4 linked regions of the Homo sapiens genome follow. The protein of the gene in region 4 purifies or fractionates together with the protein of the main gene of each other region. This does not show direct contact. Each region holds a gene or a part of one and is shown on either strand. Other genes may lie near its edges.

Region 1 (3,500 bases), on a different chromosome or scaffold from region 4:
CAGAGGAGATCTCTATTTTCATGTTTGAAGACCATGAACCCTCTGCTTCTGAATCAAAGGGGGAAAAACTGCAAAAGAAGCCATGTGCTCAAAGAAAAGAATGCCAAAGGGTATAAGTGGCTTGTGAAGAAGTTTCACAAAGCTGTCTCCATTTGCTAAAGCTATAAACAGTTCTTGATCTAGTCAATTGCAAAATACATGGATGGCCAGGGCTTCTGTTTAAGCAAAAGAAGAAAAAATATCAATAGCACAAAACTGCCCTTATAGTTTTTGAAAAAATATATCTATTAAGATAACAATTTTGATTTTTTTAATAAGCTGTGCATTAAGTACACTTTGTTTCCATCACTCTCCATTACTCTAGAGCTCCGCTTTGTCTGCCTGGGCCGGGCTGGCGACCCCACTGCCTCCCTCGGCGGTGCCACTGCTATCCGCAGGTGTAAAAGACAAGGCAGCCGAATTTATGCAGTATCTTTTCCCAGTTGGACGAGGCCCATCATCAAAAATGTGCCCAAGGTGAGCACCACACTGAAAGAGAAGAACAAAACGTCAGGGAAAAGCATGTACAAAGCAGGCTTTGAGAGGAATTCACATTAAGCAGTTTAAATGGATGACCAGCCTGTAGAGAAATGAAGGAAACCATCGTGGATGATTTCTAATCCGCCTGTCAATAGCCGCAAAGATGGTTTCTGGCAGGCTTTGCGCCACATGCTGAGAACAAAAAACACTAGAATTGTGCATATCAGAAATCATTTAGGAGCCACGTATTTTTTGATCTGTGAAGTCTCTCAGCCAGCTGAAAAATGACTGCAGTAATTTTATGAATCAAGTTGACCCTTGATCTTCCCTTGTAAGAAACATGGCAGCATAAAATCTTTCCCCCGGCATTACTTTTGGCTTTGGATGGGTGGGTTTCAGATATGCAGAAGTCCACTGAAAAGATACTGTTTAACTGGCCATGACAGAGGTGATGTTTGCTTTCATGGGCAGTAAAACTTAACATCAGACAAGTATTGGATGTTCTTGGAACCCAGCGAAGCAATGGCAAGGCTCAATAGATTTATGTCACAGTCACCAGGGCTGCAAATGTAGCAAAAGGAAACATCTCTAGCACACACAATTGTTTTTTTCCTGGCTTCCAACAAGTAGTGTCATGCTGGCTTCTTTATCCAAATGAACTCTAATATAAAGAAAAGCAATAAGCTGTTTAGCTAAAATCAATTTTACTGACTATTCAAAAAGCTGGGGAAGAAGAGACCTAAGGTCTAGACAGAGGCAGAAGGAACATCATGTTGGTGTTTGAGAGAAATAAAGCCCAGAGAAAGTTTCTCCAAAAAGGCTGGCTCAGTGAACACCCCTACACTAACTGCGTTGATGCTGGGTACAGCTCCAGGAGATGAAGGTACATGTCACACTTAGATATCTACTGCCCTTTTCCATCAGGGATGGGGCGAACGAGATGGAGACACTGGTGCACCATATTCAAGCAGGCTGTGAAAATCCATCATTTATCATGGATCAAAGAAACCAAAGCCTGGGGTAAATGACTTCCATTCATTCGTTTATTAATGGAGTGCCTGCTATATGCCAGGCACTGTTTTAGACTCTGGAGTACAGGCAACAATCCCTGGCCTCATAGAGCTTACATTCTAGTGGGAGAGACAGACAGTACACAAGAAAACAAGTGAACTATAAAGCATGGAAGGTAGAAAGCAATGCTAAGGGAGCAAAAAAGGAAGGTGATATGAAATGTTAGATAGGGTGGTCAGAAGAGGCCTACCTGGGGTGACTTTGGAATAAGGACCTGGAAGAAGTGTATCTCTAGGGGAGGGCATTTCGAGAAGAGGGAAGAGTCAAGATTTAGGTAAGAGTATGAGAGAAAAAGCATATCAATGATTTGTTAATTCTCACTGTGCTGATTTGGTGTATAAAACACTTATAAGTTTCAAGGAAAGAGTATGAATTCACAAGGGACTGGGGATGAGACACCAAATGGAGATGAAGAGAGAAAAATGAGAGAAAGTGCTCATTACAATGAAAAGCACTAGAATCTTAGTTTCCCTGTTGAACATGCTAAGCTCAATTCTCAAGTATTCCCTAGTTATTAATAAATAGCAGAAATAGCAACTTTGACTGTATGGCACTTCCATGTTAAAAGTGCATTCTCATTTCACTGCCAGCAAACTCTGTCAGTTTATTAAAGAGCTAAAAATGAACCCTGAACTGATTTGATCTATTGCCTAGAAAATATGAAACAGGCCTAAAAAACAAATCTTGTATTATTTTACCACATTCGATGCAGGTTTAGGTAATATCAAGGCTGACAGGTCAGACTGCTTTTCCTTTCTATAAACAATTGATGCCAAATTTTTAGGCATCCACAGCTAAGATGAACCAGTAAAAATACATATGCTTGCCCAACGGACACAGGAAACACCCATTTCTGCCTACCAAAATAGTCAAGGTGCTGTCCAACAGGAACCAGTGCTCTCAGTGACCAGTGTGTGTGCACAATTACTGATCTCAGATGCAGCTCCAGCACTTGGATCACTTGGCATTTAAGAGATGAAGTTTTCATATACCTAAAAGCCTTAGGGGTGTGTGTGTGTGTGTTTAATGAGAGAATGCAGCTATCTGGGAAAAATAAATGATATTGCCTTTGCTAATAATCTCTTGAGCATCTTTAGAAAATATTTCTATTTATTCTACACCAAAAATAAAGCATAGTGAGGATATATTTGAAGGTGTTTAAGAATGAGTTATATGGTCTTAATTTCCCAAATCATATTTTAAAAATCCAAATTACAGTAATTGAATCTGTTGAACTGGGTGAGTTTTCAACCTGTAGTTTCATTTGCTAATCTGGTACTAGTATTCTGGTTAAATAGAAAGGAAAACACTGATTCTAGGTGTGTCCCTAATCCAAGGCAAAAAAAAAAAAAAAAAGTGAGGAAGAGAAATTATAGTTAGAAAAAGACTATGAAAACTATTTGCTAACAAATATATGGGTTGAGGATGGGGGTAGAAAAATCCTCAGAAACGGTTTGAGTCCCCTGAAAATGATAGTTATGGCTTCATTATACTTGCCACAGGGTGTTCTGGAAGAGTCATAGCAGCCTTAGGTTACTAAGGGAAGAGCATCATCTCAAAACATAGAAAGGTGTTCATCTGTATCTGTGGCACCACATACATCCCCGCCCCACTGCCGGCAAAGCCATTTGTCTGAGGGAAGCCTAACCACGCAGTGCCATTCGAGCCTCCTCCCAGGTAAACCTAGTCTCCCAGAAAGGACTGTTACCCGGTTTCTTTGAAAAGCGCACAAGCCTTGAAGGCTCCTCCCTGAGAGTACGCGCACGGAGCCCATTCTTTGCAGCTTCTAGCCTTGGGAAAGCTGGGAGGATAAATGGAAGTTGCCAGAGGAGCATTGTTTCTTTAGCTGCCTGCAAGCTCTGCCTCCCAGGCCCCAGCCAACTGGCAATGTGTTGGGGTTTCTCAGTACA
Region 2 (3,500 bases), on a different chromosome or scaffold from region 4:
TGATTTAGAGGTAAGGACTAAAGGGAAATCAAAGGTAGGGGGAGGTTTCCAACTGTGAATGGGAAGAAGAGCTGAGAATGGAAAACATCATTAAATAGGGGAGTCGGGCCAGACAAGCACAGGTGAGGCAGAGGGAAGTCTCCAGTGATACCCAAGTTATTTACAGAAATGCAGAAATTGGCATTTATGGAGTCGTGATTTCAGGCAGGGAAAGGGGGAAAAAAAACCTTCAGTCAAGATACATTTACTAAGCAATTACACAACTACAGTAAAGGAGACAAAAATTTAATTAAAAAAAGAAAAAGAAAAAGCTACATGGGAAGATATACACACGCACACGCACACACAAACATGCATGATCACAAAGGAACAGCTAACGTAGTCTAGAGCTAAATGAAATATGAGTTTTGCCTTCAAGGATAGTTAGAAATACCAGAAATAGATGAAAACAGTGGGTATTCCAACCAGGAGAATGGGGTGAACAAATGCCTAAGAAATGGTAATGCAAGAAGGGTTTTCAGGGGATAGCCAGAAGGGGCACTAATTTGTGGGGCCAAAGCTAATGTTGACATGAGGAAGGTCACCAAGGGAACAGGAGACATAGGAGGTAATCAGCGCCTATTGAGCATTTTCTCTGTGCCAGACACTCTCTCACCACTTCATTTCATTTCATCCAAATGACCCTGTGAGGTAAGTAATTATTATCTGCACTTTCAATACAAGAAAACTCATGCCCAGGAAAGCTCAGCAACTTGAAAAAAAAAAAAAAAAACTAGGTTTTTTTTTAGCTAGTGAATCTACACTCGGTTTTGTCTCACCCTTCCTGCTACCTCTACCCACCCCATTCACTGACTGTGTGCCTACTGTGAATAGTGAGTGGCCTCAGTGACACACGCCAGATTACAGCTCTCTATGATGTTCCCTCAGTCCATGATTTCACAGGGTACATGTGAAGGAAACCACTAACCCATTTCAGGTGATATAAACATCTCTGAATTTAGGGCACAGAGGAATGAAGAACTGATACATCCTGACACTACTAGACTAGAATGCACTTAGACAAAGTGACTAAATAAACTTACTTTGGTTTAAAATGTTACTGCTTTTAGATGGAAATGCAAATTGGTACAACCACTTTAGAAAACAGTTTGGCAGTTTCTTACAGAGTTAACCGTATGGTTACTTTACAACCCAGCAATCCCATTCCTGGATATTTACCCAAGAGAAATAAAAATGTATACTCACACAGAACCTATATGCAAAGGTTTATAGCAGCTTTATTCATAATCATACCAAACTGGAAACAAGCCGAGCATGGTGGCTCATGCCTATAATCCCAGCACTTTGGGAGGCCAAGGCAGGTGGATCACCTGAAGTCAGGAGTTCAAGACCAGCCTGGCCAACATGGTGAAACCCCATCTCTACTAAAAATACAAAAATTAGCTGAATGTGGTGGCACACGCCTGTAGTCCCAGCTACCTGGGAGGCTGAGGCAGGAGAATTGCTTGAACCCAGGAGGCAGAGGTTGCGATAAGCCAGGGTCACACCACTGCACTCCAGCCTGGGTGACAGAGCAAGACTCAGTCTCAAAGAAAAAAAAAAAAGTGGTATTACTGCGTGTAAATTTGAAAAAATTGTTTTAATGTTATTGCTTTGGAAGACCATTACTGTGGAAAGAAGAAAAGTTTTAAGGTGTAGCTGTATTTCTTCACTTAATCTCTAAAATCCTAACTCAGGCGCGGATTTGGTCTCCAGGCCCCTTCCCCATCCATCTACTGCCAAGAAATAATCTAAGCTTCTGAAGACTGGGGCCACTTTCCAGCTTAGGGTTTGTGGCTGATGTTTTGCTCTGGCTCTTAGGCCCTCAGGAGGAAGCACTCATCTTTAACAAGACCTGCTTTCTCAGGACTGCAAACAAGAGAAAAGCCCAATAAGAGGAAAGTGAAGTGTGAAAATCCATTTCAAAGAACTTTACTGAGAACTCACCATGTCAGAGAGCTTCCATTAATACAGTTGCTTCAAAACCAATAGGCAGAACCCAAAGTAATGGATGACTCACCAGGACTTTTAGCAGCTAATGGAGTACTCTGAGAAATGCTGTAAATCCAATATTTTTGCTGAAAAATTAATGTGTTATGGGAGGGAGCCTCTTTTCTAATCACTTACCCACCCCCACCCTCTACTTCTAGTTCACCATCAGCATCTTTAGCTCTTCTAATTTTTGCCAAAGCTGAATGCAGTTCTTTCCCAATTTTCTTATATCATTTTAAGTATTATATATGCTATCTTACCAGGCCCACTCAGAGAAACAGCACTTATCTTTAAAATTATTTTTTAACTACTCCCCACAGCCTACGGCCAATAAAAACTCTGTAAACTATGTTAAATATACCAAAGTAAAGTTTCCAGAATTCACAGAGAGATCGATAAATATTTACTAAGTGCCTTCTACAGACAAAGCCCTGGGAAGTATAAAGGAGCAAAACATGCACAGTTCTTGTCTCTAAACATGGCTTACAATGTCATTAGGCATATGACCAAAGCTAATAATAATCCAAGGCAAAAAACTTGGGAGATCATATACAAAACAAATGCTATAGGAGTTCAAAGTGGGGAAAGACTGTGGCTGGTGTGGTCAGAGAAAGACAGCTTTGCACAAAGCTGAAAAACTGCAGGAGTGATGGAGAACATTTCTCCCAAACAGGACATTTTCATAAAAGAGAAATCTAGAAACTCCACCTGTAAAATCTCTTTCTTGGAATATATCTCCATAACAAACAGAACTTTAAGGGAAAAAATGACCCCAGTTTCAAAAACACAAAGAATTTCTGGGATTCTGAATTTGGACTAACAGATAACTCCACCAAAATTCATTCTTTACTTGTCTCTGTTTGAAGGTGACATATTTCTGGATGATCTGGGCTTCTTTGGTCATCCACAGTCTGTGCCCCTAGAACTAAGGAAGGTTGTGTACATCTCAGACAGTTTTCACTTGCAACTGAGCCATGTCAGCCGGCTCCAACTGAATTGACTTGGGACCATTCTACTCATTGCATATGGCATGATACAGACTGCCAGAACCCTCATTTCCTTTAGTGCCACATTATCAATTAGGAATGGGAAGGATCCTGGCACATGCCAACCCAACTCCCAAACCCTTCAGTATCTGGCAGTCTTCTATTCTGTACATGCACTCACCAAAATATACATAAACGAATGTTCATAGCAGCACTAGCCATATTAGCCCCAAACCGGAAACTATCCAAATATCCATCAACAGTCAGTAGACAAATTGTAGTATATTCATATCATGGAATACTACAAAACAATGAGGATGAATTTGACAAGCATAACACTTAATCCCAAGAAACCACACACAAAAGAGAACATACTCTATGGTTTTATGTAATATAAAGTTAAAAAGAAACAAGCAAAACTAATAGCATCAGAAGTGAGAATCATGGTTACCCTGAAGCAGGGGGATTTAGGGACTGGAAGGG
Region 3 (3,500 bases), on a different chromosome or scaffold from region 4:
TCTCCTGCCTCAGCCTCCTGAGTAGCTGGGACTACAGGCACGCGCCACCACACCCAGCTAATTTTTGTATTTTTGGTAGAGATGGGGTTTCACCATGTTGGCCAGGATGGTCTTGAAATCCTGACCTCGTGATCTGTCCGCCTCAGCCTCCTGAAGTGCTAGGATTACAGGCGTGAGCCACCGTGCCTGGCCAAAAAATTTTTTAAATTAGCCAGCTGTGGTGGTGTGCACCCGTAGTCCCAGTTACTCAGGAGGCTGAGGGGGAAGGACCACTTGAGCCTGGAAGGTAGAGGCTGCAGTGAGCTGTGACGGTGCCATAGCCCTTCGGCCCAGGTGACAGAGTGAGACATTGTCTTAAATTAAAAAAAAAAAAAAAAAAGAGAGAGCAAGAAGGGAGGTTGGACCCTAGGCAGGAAGGCAGGAAGAGACTGGAAACTAAGGAAAGGAGTTGCAGAGGCTGGGGAGAGGGGTGGGGGTTGAGGCCAAGGCCTTTGGATACTTTTCCTGCCCCTGTGGCTCCTCATGCCAACTGAGCATTTGGGACACATGCCCCTTCCCTACCTGGGAGCTGCAGAAAGGCAGGGGATGCTGTGGCCCCTCAGCAGAAGTGGGGATGGAGTCTTTGGGTGGTCCTTCAGCCATCTAGCAGAGTTCTGTGGGCAAGCGCTAGCCCTGAGGCAGGGAGCAGTAACCTACTGGCTGTGGCAGCAGAGGCTTGAGTACAACCCAGGGAGAGACGAAGGAAGGGGCTAGTAGCTCAGGGAAAGCACAGCACCCCAACTAGCCCTTTTGGGGTTCTCCTGATCCTAGAAGGAAGGAACTGGGGACTCCCAAGCCTCCTGGGTTTGGGCTTTGCATTATGGTGTGTCGGGGGCCTTGAGGAGATTCTCCCTTGACAAGCAGAGAAAAGACCTGCAGCTCCTCACTGTAGGGCCAGGCCTGGCCCTTCACTGGGTGCCAGAGCCCAACTAGGCCCAGGCTACAGTCATAGGCGAGGGGGTCGACAGGCCTCCGACCCTTACCTGGGCTGGTTGCACAGGTGATCTTGGCATTGTCGAGCCACCTGGGGGCTGTAGAATCAGAGAAGCAGAAGCTGCGGGCGCAGGTGCGGCGTCTGGTGCAGGAGAACCAGTGGCTGCGTGAGGAGCTGGCGGGGACACAGCAGAAGCTGCAGCGCAGTGAGCAGGCCGTGGCCCAGCTCGAGGAGGAGAAGCAGCACTTGCTGTTCATGAGCCAGATCCGCAAGTTGGATGAAGACGCCTCCCCTAACGTGAGCTCCTACCATGGTCACTGTTGCCCAGCAAGGAGGCCTGGGAGCAGGGAGGGGCAGCATGGAGCAGATTCGGCTCCACCCCAGCCCATGGACACCCCGGCTGCCCTGTGCCTCCTTCCCTGATGCTCATCCTGTCTTCCTTCCCAGGAGGAGAAGGGGGACGTCCCCAAAGACACACTGGATGACCTGTTCCCCAATGAGGATGAGCAGAGCCCAGGTGCGGATGGGCAGTTCTGGAGTGGGGGAAGGAAAGGTTGTGTGAACTCTTGGTCCTTGGGACCGAGTGGCTGCCATGTTCCTTCCTGCCTCACTTCTGATCATGACATCCTAGTGTGTTAGAGCTTCAAGAACAGTTGTACGTGCTGCTGCTTCTCACATCCCCCCAGCTCTGTGGTGAGCAGACATCACAATTAGCTGTGGAGTCACCAGCCTGGCTTCCAGTGCTGCTCTGCCACTAGCTTCCCTGACCCTTGGGAGAGTTCTCTTCCTCTCCGAATCACCTCTGAAGGAGGCACATGCAGACAGCCACAATGGGGCCAGTGCCTGCTTTGCTGATGGTACTGGTTATGCATCGGGGCCTCCACTCTGTACACAGGGACACAGGCTCAGAGGTTAGGCAGCTTGCCCCAGGACACAGAGCCTGAAGTACTGGAGCTGGGCCTCTACCCCCTCTTTCTATGGGGTAACTAGACCCATTCTATAAATGGGGAAACTGAGAAAGAGTGGTTAGTGACTTGCCCAGGGCCATGTGTCAAGTGGCTCAAAGGCACAGCTGGCATGTGCCATCCCAGTCCAGTGGGCAGATGGTACATCTGACCTCCTGCCCTTGGCCCTGCAGCCCCTAGCCCAGGAGGAGGGGATGTGTCTGGTCAGCATGGGGGCTACGAGATCCCGGCCCGGCTCCGCACCCTGCACAACCTGGTGATCCAATACGCCTCACAGGGCCGCTACGAGGTAGCTGTGCCACTCTGCAAGCAGGCACTCGAAGACCTGGAGAAGACGTCAGGCCACGACCACCCTGACGTTGCCACCATGCTGAACATCCTGGCACTGGTCTATCGGTGAGGACTCTCTGGGGGTGCCCAAATTCTTCTGGAAGGCTCCAGCCCTGGATCACTAACCCTTGGTGCCTGCTGTGGGCCAGGACTCGTGGCCCACCTGCGTGGAGCTGGGCTACAGATGCAAGTAAAACTGTCTAGTGTAAGAGAGAGGCTTGGCCAGAACTGGGGAGGGACTGCACATGAGGACTCCAGGGGTCCTGGGGAGTCCACACAGCTTCTCCAGGCACCAAGGCTGGAGGAGGGGCTTTGCCAGAAAGTGAGTTTGCCCAAACACAAGAGGGCTAGAAAAGGTTCCCATGGCAAAAAGCCAGCATGAGCAAAGGCACTGGGACCTGGAGAGCAGGACACGCTAAAGGGGCAGCAGGAGAGCCATGTGGCGCCCAGGAATGCTAGGCACCAGGCAGTCGGTGGGACCCCAGCACTGCGCACCCCAGCCAATTGTGAGAAAACTGCCTACAGCCCTTGGAGCTTGGAGAGCAGGAGCTGAGCAGGTCTCCCCACACTCTGGGTCTCACTCTGTCATACACACTCAGTGAGTACAGGAGTGACCACAGGGATTGCAGACCATTGGGGAGGGCCTTGAGCTGGAGGACAGCCCTGACCATGCTCCTACCTGCTCCCAGGGATCAGAACAAGTACAAGGAGGCTGCCCACCTGCTCAATGATGCTCTGGCCATCCGGGAGAAAACACTGGGCAAGGACCACCCAGCCGTGAGTGAGGGTTGGGTGGGAGGTGGGGGCTGTGCCCCATCCCCTGCAGGTCCCAGAGTCCTGCAGGGCCTGAGTCAAGAAGCTTCCGTTCTCCCACCTCCAGGTGGCTGCGACACTAAACAACCTGGCAGTCCTGTATGGCAAGAGGGGCAAGTACAAGGAGGCTGAGCCATTGTGCAAGCGGGCACTGGAGATCCGGGAGAAGGTGGGAACAGGCAGGGCTGGGCAGGCTGGGGGTCTGGGAGGCAGGGGCCCGGGCAGCCCTGAGCCCAACCCCTGGCTCCCTCTCCCATCCCAGGTCCTGGGCAAGTTTCACCCAGATGTGGCCAAGCAGCTCAGCAACCTGGCCCTGCTGTGCCAGAACCAGGGCAAAGCTGAGGAGGTGGAATATTACTATCGGCGGGCACTGGAGATCTATGCTACACGCCTCGGGCCCGATGACCCCAATGTGGCCA
Region 4 (3,500 bases):
TTAAGATAATTTCAGAACCCGGAAGCTACTATGTGTCTTCTGCATTTACACTCGCAGTTAATATCATAGCAAAGAAAGTTGTTGAAAATGATAAATTTCCCTCTGGAGGTAAGTTATAAAGTTTATAGTTTTATTTTTGTTGGTAGATAATTGCAGTTAGTCTGGAAATGAGCAGATGGTCATGAAGTTGTAGGTGGTTTTCAGCTTTTAAAAATCTTAAAACTGGCCGGGCGTGGTGGCTCACGCCTATAATCCCAGCACTTTGGGAGGCAGAGCCAGGTGGATCACAAGGTCAGGAGTTCGAGACCAGCCTGGCCAATATGGTGGAAACCCCATCTCTACTAAAAATATAAAACTTAGCTGGTCATGGTGGCGCACACCTGTAATCCCGGCTACTCGGGAGGCTGAGGCACAAAAATCGCTTGAATCCGGGAGGCAGAGGTTGCAGTGAGCCAAGATTGTGCCACTGGACTCCAGCCTGGGTGACAAGAGTGAGACTCCGTCTCAAAAAAAAAAAAAATCTTAAAGCCAAGGTCCCATTCCGTAAGACTTCCAAATCCAACTTTCTTGGTACTGATGTTTAGATACGTGTGTTTTAGATAAATGTCTAGCAGATGATTAATTCTCATCCATTATTCAGAACTACTTTTATTGTGATCTTTTCTGTTCTCCTTACCTCACATGGGTCAGAGGGAGGCTCTGTTTTCACACTTTCTCACATAAGGGCCACAAAGAGTCCCTGTAATCTAACTCAAGTCAAACCAACAAAAAGGCACTAGACAGTACCATCTTGTTGGCTAATATTGTAGGAAATACTGTTTTACATTAAGAAGACTTTTTTTTTTGGCTGTGGACTAATCCACAGCCCATAGGAAAGTTGTCCATTTCCCCAATATTGTCTTTTTTTTACAGCTTTGTTTTTCCTTGCTTAGAATCCAGTCCAGGACCACATTGAATTCGTCATTTCTCCTTGAATCTAGATAAAGTTTCTCAGCTCATTACTTTGTATTTTTTAACTTTGACATTTTTGAAGAGTAGAAATTTCATAGCTGATCCTTAGTTTGGGTTTGTTGGATGATTCCTCATGATTAATTTTTTAGGCTATGCATTTGGGGCATGAAGTCCACTAAAGTGTTACTCTGTTCTTCTCACTTCATCATGTTAGGAGGCACATGATAGTGGCCAATTCTAATATTGATGATGCTAGGTGTTTTTTCTTGTTGTTTTGTCGCCCAGGCTGGAGTACAGTGGCTCCATCAGGGCTCATTGCAGTCTCCACCTCCCGGCTTAAGCAGTCCTCCTACCTTCAACCTCTTGCATAGCTGGGACTACAGGCATATGCCACCATGCCTGGCTAGGTTTTTTTCTATTTTTATTTTGTAGAGGGTTTCGTCGTGTTTCTCAGGCTGGTCTCAAACTCCTGAGCTCAAGTGATCCACCTGCCTCAGCCTCCCAAAGTGCTGGGATTACAAACTTGAGTCAATACACCTGGCCTTATGATTTTTTTTTTTTTTTTTTTTTTGAGACTGTTTTGCTCTTGTTGCCCAAGCTGGAATGCAGTGGCATGATCTCAGCTCACTGCAACCTCCACCTCCCAGGTTCAAGCAATTCTCCTGCCTCAGCCTCCCAAGTAGCTGGGATTACAGGTGCGTGCCACCACACCCGGCTAGATTTTTTTTTTTTTTTTTAATTTAAATGCTAGTTTTGAGCACTTGTTTAAGGTTGTGTCAGGCAGGTTTCTTTCCATTGTGAAGTGGCAAGTTTAAATTAGAGACTCTGTAAACTACCTGTTTTTAACCAGATTTTCACCCCATTAGTTTTAGCATCTATTGTTGAATTTCTAACTTCATTATTGTTTATATTAGTTGGCCTTTACTTAAAGAATATCTTTTCCTTCCCTCCTGTTTATGAGTTTAGACTCATAGATCTTTATTCAATAGGTTTATATAATCTGTTACTCTTATTTTTCCCTTGACATGTCTCCATTATTCTCAGAGCAATTCGTTATTTTTTGGTATATCAAGATGTTCCAGGCTCATTTTAACCTTTTAAATGAGCCTCAGTCCCGTAATCAGTTGTTTCTCCAGGGAGCCTTGGTTTGTTTTCGTGGAGAGTGATATTTTAAAAACCTGAAAATTAGTATTGGTTGTGCTAAGAGTAGAGTAGCTGTGAGTAGAATGGGCGTTTTCAAAGGTTTCAAAGTGAGGTGAGAGGATCTATTGATCCCTGAAGCTCGAGGCTGCGGTGACCTGTGATCACGCTACTGCACTGTAGCCTGAGTAACAGTGAGGCCCTGTCTCTACACACACACACAGATTCCCACTGGCAGTGTATACATGTGAGCTCTGGTTGCTCCTCCTGCTCTCTGATGTTTTGTAGTGTCAGTCTTTAAGTTGATCCAGTCAGTAGGTTGGTGGTAATGGTAGTCCATTGTGGTTTTAATTTGCATTTACCTGATGACTAACGATGTAGAGCACTGTTTTCTTTTTCTTTTTCTTTTCTTTTTTTTTTTTGTTTTTGAGACAGGGTTTTTGCTCTGTTATCCAGGCTGGAATGAGTGGCACAATCTCAACTTTTATTTTTAATTCTACATTCAAACACATATTTAACTCCTTGTGCATATATTGCCTTCCCCTTGCTGATTTGAAAAGAAACTAAAAAGTGTTTTTCCTTGCTGCTTCATTTCCTCTTTTTTTGAAACAGCAACTATCAGAAAGTCTTCTAGAATCTTAATACTTTTTTCTTTTTTTTTTTTTTTTTTTGAGACAGGGTCTCATTCTGTCACCCAGGCTGGAGTGCAGTAGCACAGCCTTGGCTCACTGTCTCACTGTCTTACTGTAACCTCCGCCTCCCGGATTCAAGGGATTCTAGTGCCTCAGCCTCCCAAGTAGCTGTGATTACAGGCATGCACCACCACACCTGGCTAATTTTTGTATTTTTAGTAGAGATGGAGTTTTGCCATGTTGTTCAGGCTGATCTTGAACTCCTGACCTCAAGTGATCCTCCCACCTCAGCCTCACAAAGTGCTAGGATTACAGGTATGAGCCACCGCATCCAGCCCTAGAGCACTCTTTTCTTGTGCTCATTGGTTATCTTCCTTTGTGAAATGCGTGCTCTATGTGTCTTTTTAAGTTTAAATAGTTTGAGAAATGTGAAAATTACATTAATTTGTTTCATATGAGCCATTTTATTAAAAATTCATTTTCCCCTTTCCTGTTTTATTCCAGTAGAAAAAACCGGAAGTGATGAACCAGCCTTCATGTATTATATGAATGATGGTGTTTATGGTTCTTTTGCAAGTAAACTGTCTGAGGACTTAAATACCATTCCAGAGGTTCACAAGGCAAGTTTTATCAGAAATATCAAAACCTATTTGGCATTTTATAAGCTGAGCTGTTATTTTTAAGATGCTTCCCAGTTTTTTGAAAAACATCTTAGAATGGGGAAAAATGTCCTTTTTGAGGATTTGCGTTCTTCTGGTGGAGTCCCTTTTTTAGTTT

What was found.
Region 1: the proteins of AZIN1 (region 4) and MSRB3 purify together in Homo sapiens (affinity purification with mass spectrometry, with the first as the bait; one large-scale study listed by BioGRID). This does not show direct contact.
Region 2: the proteins of AZIN1 (region 4) and KIF5C purify together in Homo sapiens (affinity purification with mass spectrometry; 2 studies listed by BioGRID and IntAct, with this or other methods). This does not show direct contact.
Region 3: the proteins of AZIN1 (region 4) and KLC2 purify together in Homo sapiens (affinity purification with mass spectrometry; 3 studies listed by BioGRID and IntAct, with this or other methods). This does not show direct contact.

What each region holds. Positions count from the first base shown.
Region 1 is NC_000012.12:65,460,183-65,463,682, reverse strand, and holds part of MSRB3 (methionine-R-sulfoxide reductase B3 isoform 2 precursor), read right to left. Parts: intron 529-3,500; coding exon 361-528; 3' UTR 1-360. UniProt on the Homo sapiens protein: Catalyzes the reduction of free and protein-bound methionine sulfoxide to methionine. Isoform 2 is essential for hearing.
Region 2 is NC_000002.12:148,878,227-148,881,726, reverse strand, and holds part of KIF5C (kinesin heavy chain), read right to left. Parts: intron 1-3,500. UniProt on the Homo sapiens protein: Microtubule-associated force-producing protein that may play a role in organelle transport. Has ATPase activity. Involved in synaptic transmission. Mediates dendritic trafficking of mRNAs.
Region 3 is NC_000011.10:66,260,703-66,264,202, forward strand, and holds part of KLC2 (kinesin light chain 2), read left to right. Parts: intron 1-1,022; exon of another isoform or gene 1,023-1,039; coding exon 1,040-1,270; exon of another isoform or gene 1,271-1,310; intron 1,311-1,420; coding exon 1,421-1,490; intron 1,491-2,111; coding exon 2,112-2,334; intron 2,335-2,957; coding exon 2,958-3,045; exon of another isoform or gene 3,046-3,148; coding exon 3,149-3,250; intron 3,251-3,343; coding exon 3,344-3,500. UniProt on the Homo sapiens protein: Kinesin is a microtubule-associated force-producing protein that plays a role in organelle transport. The light chain functions in coupling of cargo to the heavy chain or in the modulation of its ATPase activity.
Region 4 is NC_000008.11:102,829,664-102,833,163, reverse strand, and holds part of AZIN1 (antizyme inhibitor 1), read left to right. Parts: coding exon 1-108; intron 109-3,227; coding exon 3,228-3,343; intron 3,344-3,500.